2 separate regions of the Homo sapiens genome follow, and region 1 is reported to be linked to region 2. Evidence: microRNA targets listed by miRTarBase, many of them from high-throughput screens and not tested one by one. Region 2 holds a microRNA gene; the other region holds the end of a gene's coding sequence.

The links. Region 2 holds the annotated microRNA hsa-miR-4520-3p (UUGGACAGAAAACACGCAGGAA, at 2,387-2,408, shown strand). A microRNA usually pairs through its seed, bases 2 to 8, with sites in the 3' UTR of a target mRNA and lowers its output. Matches are read on the target gene's strand: a 7mer-m8 pairs with bases 2 to 8, a 7mer-A1 pairs with bases 2 to 7 and ends in A, and an 8mer does both.
Region 1: the mRNA of DPY19L3 is a reported target of hsa-miR-4520-3p. The part of its 3' UTR that is shown has no 7-base or 8-base seed match.

Annotation. Positions count from the first base shown.
Region 1 is chr19:32,481,687-32,484,686 of GRCh38, forward strand. It overlaps DPY19L3 (dpy-19 like C-mannosyltransferase 3), which reads left to right. Exons shown (of 19, transcript NM_001172774.2): 19 at 393-3,000. The coding sequence ends at 554. Among named protein-coding and RNA genes, the nearest start is that of DPY19L3, 77 kb to the left of the region's middle.
Region 2 is chr17:6,654,335-6,657,854 of GRCh38, reverse strand. MIR4520-1 (microRNA 4520-1) reads left to right here and starts at 2,346; the gene lies at 2,346-2,415. MIR4520-2 (microRNA 4520-2) reads right to left here and starts at 2,406; the gene lies at 2,353-2,406. It also overlaps the pseudogene ALOX15P1. RefSeq lists enhancers at 438-487, 262-898, 2,176-2,748.

The sequences.
Region 1 (3,000 bases), not on the chromosome of region 2:
TTTCAGGCATGAGCCACCACGCCTGGCCTAAATGTGACTTTTTCTGATGAGTTAGAGAGCTTTCTCTGATCACTGTAGTTCTCTGTATTTCATTTCTATGAGAGAGACAGTATAGTATGTTCCTGAGAGCAAGCAGACCTGAGTTCTAGTTCTGGCTTTCCCGTTAATGGGATCATCGTGTGACGCTGCACTCTCCTTCTCAGCCTTGGTCTGCACTTCTGAAGGGGGAAAAGGATGGCCCTGATGATCTCCAGGTGCCCATGGACATTGAAATAATATAATTTAATTTCACTCACATACCATTCTTAAACCCAATACCCATTCCTGCTCCTACTGTCTTTTGTAAATAGAATTTTCCCCCCAAATTGTATTTGGGTTTGTTTTGGTTTTAGATGATGGATGGCCCAGGAGAGAATGATCCTGATTTGAAACCTGCAGACCACCCTCGCTTCTGTGAAGAGATCAAAAGAAACCTGCCTCCCTACGTGGCCTACTTCACCAGAGTGTTCCAGAACAAAACCTTCCACGTTTACAAGCTGTCCAGAAACAAGTAGCGCAGATTTCTGCCCAGTGTCTATTTTTGATACGGAGAAACTGCATCATGATGAAACTCAATAGATGACGTTTCCTATGTAAGTAGGTAGCCCAAACCTTCAAGCTGTGATATGAGTAAGTTCTACAGATGTTTACACAAGTGTTGCCATCTTTGAAAGCATCTTCTACAAGCAGAAGTCTTTTTCGTTGTGTGTCTATCTTTCTCATTAATGTTCTTTAGCCTAAATGTTAACAACTTTCTAAGAGTGACCTAGAATTATGTTGTTGGAGAGAATGATGTGTGTTCCATGGATACCTGGATAGGCACATAACATGTTGGAAGATGAGCACCTGCTCAGGATTTGAAATACGTTTAATTTTCAGGTGACTTAAGACAGCTATGATTGAATCAACTAGAGATGATGATCGACTTATTTAATATGATTTCACTGGTGAAGACCAATTGGTAGCTTTTTAAAAAGCACTTTAGTGTCCTGTTTTACCTTAAAATGTTATAATATTTTCCAGTTGTCATGCTGTCAACATTAACAAAAAAAATCATGTTAAGGCTTTGTATCAAACATTTTGTTACACTCTGTCTGAAATGTAATGTGGAGTACTTCAGCAGTATGTGTCATGTATTGTGTGTGTCTGTGTGTGTGCATGTGCACACATGTGTTTTAATGCTGGGCACAGAAAAGTGTTACAAGTTCCATATCGTAAGTCCTTAAAGGGGCAGAAATATATGTAGCCAAGTAGAATTTATTACATTTTAGTGTTATTATTTTAAAACTTACTGATACTCTTTAACCTCTCCTGCAGTAATAGTTTTGCTTTATTTCTTACTCATTTCAATTTATTGGGTTTGCAAAATTTTGTAAACTTTTTGTGTTTTTAGCCTTTGTATTTTTTACAGCCTAGAATCTTGCAAAGTCTGAATATTTTTTAAATGTTCTATCTTAACTAGTTCACTAATACAGTATTTTTAGCAGACAGCATTTTCAGACAGCATTTTCATACCAAGTTTGACTTGTGGTCTCCAATCTTACTGGGAAGGCCCTGGTAGTGTAATTCTTTTCCTTATTAAAAGGTAACCAAGTGCCTCTAAGTCATGCTTATTTGTAAACAACAAAGAAGAGTATATGTACCTGCTCAAAATTTTTTTGATAATCGCTTATATAATTAATTTCTAATGATGAGGACATGTAAAAGTTGCCAGTAAGAACATAGTATGCATTTAATTAAATCAAGATGGCTAATGGAATTAACTTTCTCCCCTGTTCTTGCCAGGTGGAAATGATTTAAGCATTTCTCCTTGCAGTTGTATTGAAGTAAATTACCATAGGCATCAAGATGGCTGCATCACATTTTCAAATGATTTTATATTCAGTTGCTACTTATAAAGCAGCATTCAAAAAGTCTTTTACACTGTCATGTTGGACACAAGCAGACTCAGCTTTTATCAAAACTTGTTTAAATAAAAAATTGACAGTAGCTGGGTTATTAAATTATGCAACTGAAACTCCTGAATTATATCTTTTCTGTATCCCTTAATAAGATTGGAGACCACTGCCGTTTAGGATAATACAATAATAAAACGTTTTAATCAGTACTAAAACTTTAATTAAGCCAATAATGATGCATGCCTGTTGTAGCTGACAGCATGGGTCAGTACATCCTTCAGCGAGTGCCTTACTCTAATTGAAACCAAGCACACGTAAGGTACAATATGTTAGACTCTGTGATTTTGTTTTCAAAATCCTCTGTTATGGCTATATTTAAATTTATTTTAAATATTCCTGTATGTATTCATCTAAGCATTTGGGCATTTGGAGTCTTAATATACAAGAAACACGTACTTAAATTTTTATGCTTATCACCGCAATGATGGCAAACAGTGATTTTTTTTTTCATAGTTTAGGTGTCATTGTTGCCAGCACCTTTAGTGCTCAGTCTTCAGTGAAAAATATAAAGTGCCAAAAAAATCTTGCAAGACAGAATCCATACTTAACACTCTTTCCAAGACACTGTGACCATGTACAGTAGCTATTTCCTGATGACCAAATCTCTCAACGAATCATGTTATTAATAAATATTTTTAGCACTCATCAGTATTCTCCAATGTGACCTTCTCATTGGAGTACACAGAAGGAAAGCAAAGAAGAGCATCTGACTTCTAGCTCTGGCTTACAGCCTCTCTACCAGGCCGAAGCAAGAGACCCGCGGCAGCAGCTCCCCGCCACTCAGACCTGGGTGGTGATAACCTCAAAGAATGGCTCTGTTTTCTATTGACAGAAAACCCACTTGATTTTGCTTCTGAGTTAGCAGTCAGAAGACCCTCTAAGTACAATAGAAGTGCTCTTAACGGACTCTGCCTGTGTGACTCCCAGGCCCCGGAGTCTCCATCTCTCTCGTAAGCCACCTGCCACAGCACAGCTGGAGGCTGTTCTCTGGTGTTCTCAGCGC
Region 2 (3,520 bases):
GCAGGAAGGAAATCAGGCGTGGGTGCTGGAAGCATCAGCAGCTCACGTGGGGTCAGGGGAGGAGGGCTCACCGGTACAACTTCCTTCTCTCTTCCAGCTCCTCTTCCTGGTGTTTCTGGAACAGGCCTCGAGGGTCGTCGCCCACAGTACGGCCTAGAAGGCCAGAGGAGGGCTTGGCCAGTGACTTTTGGTGAGCGCCTCTTCTCGCCCCTGCCAGGAGAGCCTCATCACTCCGTCCTTCTGTGTGACCCCTGCCTCTTCAGCATCACGCCCCTCCCCCAGGCTCCAGCCACTTTGTGCCAGCTGCAGCCACAGCCCCTTCGACACTCCCAAAGAGCCCTGCGCTCCAGGTTCCAGCACCCCCATCCTGCGCCCTCTTCTCCACACGCGCATCCCCCCAGCTTCTCTCGCACCCCAGAGGCCTCCTGACACCCCCAGCCCCGCGCTTACTGGTGCCTTCAGGCAGGCTCAGGACGCCGTCGACCTCCACCCAGCGGTAACAAGGGAACCTGACCTCGTCCCCGGCTCCGGGGCCCTACACGGAGATCCAGCTGCAGAACCTGAAGGAAGTGACGTTTGCGCAGTTTCACAAACATCAGCGGCCCCAGGTACTCCGGTACTTCCACCTTGAGTTCTGTCTCCTGCGGGCGACAGAAGAGGCTCAGCCCCGGTGGGGCCTGGCGGGAGGGGCACCCGGCTGAGCCCTGCTCCCTCCAGCGCCCACGCCCTTCCTCGGAGCCTCTGAGAGGAGGAGACGTATCGGGGTGGGGGGACTGAGCCAGAGAGAGAGGGACCGCGCCGAGCAGGTGGCCCCAGGACTCGGTTCTGAGGGGACGGGGACGGCAGGTGGGAAGGTGCGCTCCTGCCTTCACTTTCTCCTCCCTGTGGTCACTGACTGTGCCAAGCGCTGGGCTGAGCGCTGCCGCGCCCTGGACGAGCGCGCTGTGGAGCCCGGACGCGCTGGTGGCAATTCCCGCTGTGCGACCCCTCCACCCCACCCCGCCCGAGGCTGAGGACCTGCAGGGGCCCCACCGGCCTGGGGACAACCTTCCCGGAGACCTGGAGGCGGAGAGGGCTCAGCCAGGGAGAGTGACAGAAAGGGAAGGCAGGGGAAAGGCGCGCAGAAAGAGAGCGGCGGGGAAGGGAGGGCGAGCAGCATCTTGGATCTGGAGCTCAGAGCCCAGGTGTGGGGGGTCAGCAGGTCCGGAGGCTCTCGAAGGTGGCGCCAGGGGCTTTGGATTTGGTCCCGAGAACAAGCGGGAGCCGTTCGAATGTGTTAAGCAGGGGGAGTGAATTAGGGAGAAATCATTCCGGCTTCAGAAGGGCTTGGAAGGTCTGCAGCAGAGGTGGCGAGGCCGCTGGAGGTTTGAAATGGCTTTTAAAATAGAGAAACCGGGAGGACCGACGACCGCTCCGGCGACCGCAGTTTCCAGGCACCAGAGCTGTGTGGAATGAGGGGCGCTCAGGAGCATCCCCTTAATTCCAAGGAGATCGAGTAGCGGAAACATTTATTGAGCGTTTACTGTGTGTCACCAACTGCCCACCATAGGGAGGAAAAAAGGGAGGAGGGAGCGCGCCTTTCCACCTTCCGTGCCCCGTCCCCTCACCATGGAGTCGCGGGGCCACCTGCTCCGTGCGCATTTTCTCTCTTTCTGGCTCCCTTTGCCCCGCTTTCTCGGAAGCTCGGAGCAAGGGCGTGGAGTGCGGGGAGCAGGGCTCCGCAGGTTCAAGAGGACGCGGGCGATCGGGGGCGGGACGGATATTGGGCAGGGACGCGGGAGATGCTCAGGGTCTAGAACTGACTGCGCCGGATTCTTGTTTAGAGGGAGGTGAAGAGAGGAAGGAGGCGCGGGTGACACCGGGGGAGGCAGGAGGAGAGGGCTGGGAGGTGGGGAGAGGGGAGGACCTCATCCGGGCATGTTGCTTTGACGTTCCCTGAGACAGACATCCGGATTTGGCGATCTGGGAGAGAGCTAGAGCAGTGATGGGAATTTGGGCTTTCGCGGAAGAAAAAAAGTAACAGGACCGGGTAGAACACCCGGTAGATATGACATGAGATATGACGGGAGGTGGGTCGGGAAATCGAGAGCGTTCTCCTGTCTTGACTCCCCATCCCTTCCCTCTCACCACCCACTCCACCCCAGGTGATAAAGCCTGAAAGGTAGAGATCCAACAGCGCTAGCGGTTGAAACGTTTTTTAAAATAGAGAAAGCGAGAGGACCGACGGCGGCTCCGGTGACTGCTGAGTTTCCAGACAAGGGAGCTCTGTGCAATGAGGGGCGCACAGGAGCATGCCCTCAATTCCAAGAAGATCAGGTAGCCGGAAAATTTATTAAGCGCTTACTGTGTGCCACCTGCGTGTTTTCTGTCCAAATCAGAAAAGGATTTGGACAGAAAACACGCAGGAAGAAGGAATCAACCCCTGGTACAGCAGGCAGGCGAGGTAGGGGTAGGAGTTATGCACGTGTATGCAAGCCTGGATGGCTGGGAAGCCAACCTCCATCTAAAGGCAAGCGCGGACATGCACACACACACACACGCCTCACAAGTTGGATTGCAAGAGAGGGTGAAGTGGGCGAGGAGACCCAGTCAGCCGTGGCATTTGAGGAAGGTACATTTAGGCCACCGAATTCATTCCACCAACTTTGCACACTTGTCTTCCTTGTGCCAGGCTCTGGGACTCATTCCTTTTGAGGGTAAAAGTCTGCCTCCCTGGACTCCTGCCCCTCAGGCGCTCCCACAGCCCGGCACCGCCCCCTCGCCATTCCGGAGCCAGCGCGGGCTAAGCGGGCCTGGCCGGGGATGAGCGGAGCCACCGTCCCCATATTCCTCGGTGCCCCGGGACCGCAAGAGGGAGCCGTGGTTTCCGGAACTCCTCCCGCCCCTCCGGGCTTTTCCTCTGTTAGGCAGGTGGCGATTCGCTGTCTTTGCCTGTTATGGCCGCTGCCGTCGCCCTGGAGACAGGTGAGTAGCGCTCTGAGCCTGGAGTCTTCGCAGATAGAACTCTCCTTGGCCCAGACCTCTTCTCCCGCTTCCCCTGGGCCTCCTTCCAGGCCTCACTCCCGGCAGGATTAGTATTTGGACAGGGAGGAGAGAAGGCTCTTGCAGCGTCTAGAAAGGCTAAGGTACTCTGCAGTTTTCCTAATTTGGTTTGTTCGCACACCTTTGCTATTCAAACACGACCCCACCAGCTTCCCAGCGTGGGCGAGACTAAGGGAGAGGACTTGTGTCTTAAAGCGTGTCCTCCTTGTGTCTTAAAGCGTGTCCTTGATTGGTTTTCTGCTTCTCACATGAGCTTGCATACGTTTGAAATATCGTCGCCAGACCTGTGTATCATTGTGTTACTTGTGATTCTTATATATGCATATGTTCCATCATCTTTTAGGCTCTCTGGAGTCTCTTGTTCAGCTTGCATCCTAAGTTTTTCTTAACTGATTCAGCACGTGCTTTTGCGAAACTTAATCACTGTTAACAATTGTTACAATGCATTATTAAAATAGGGGAAGCCACAGTTATTACA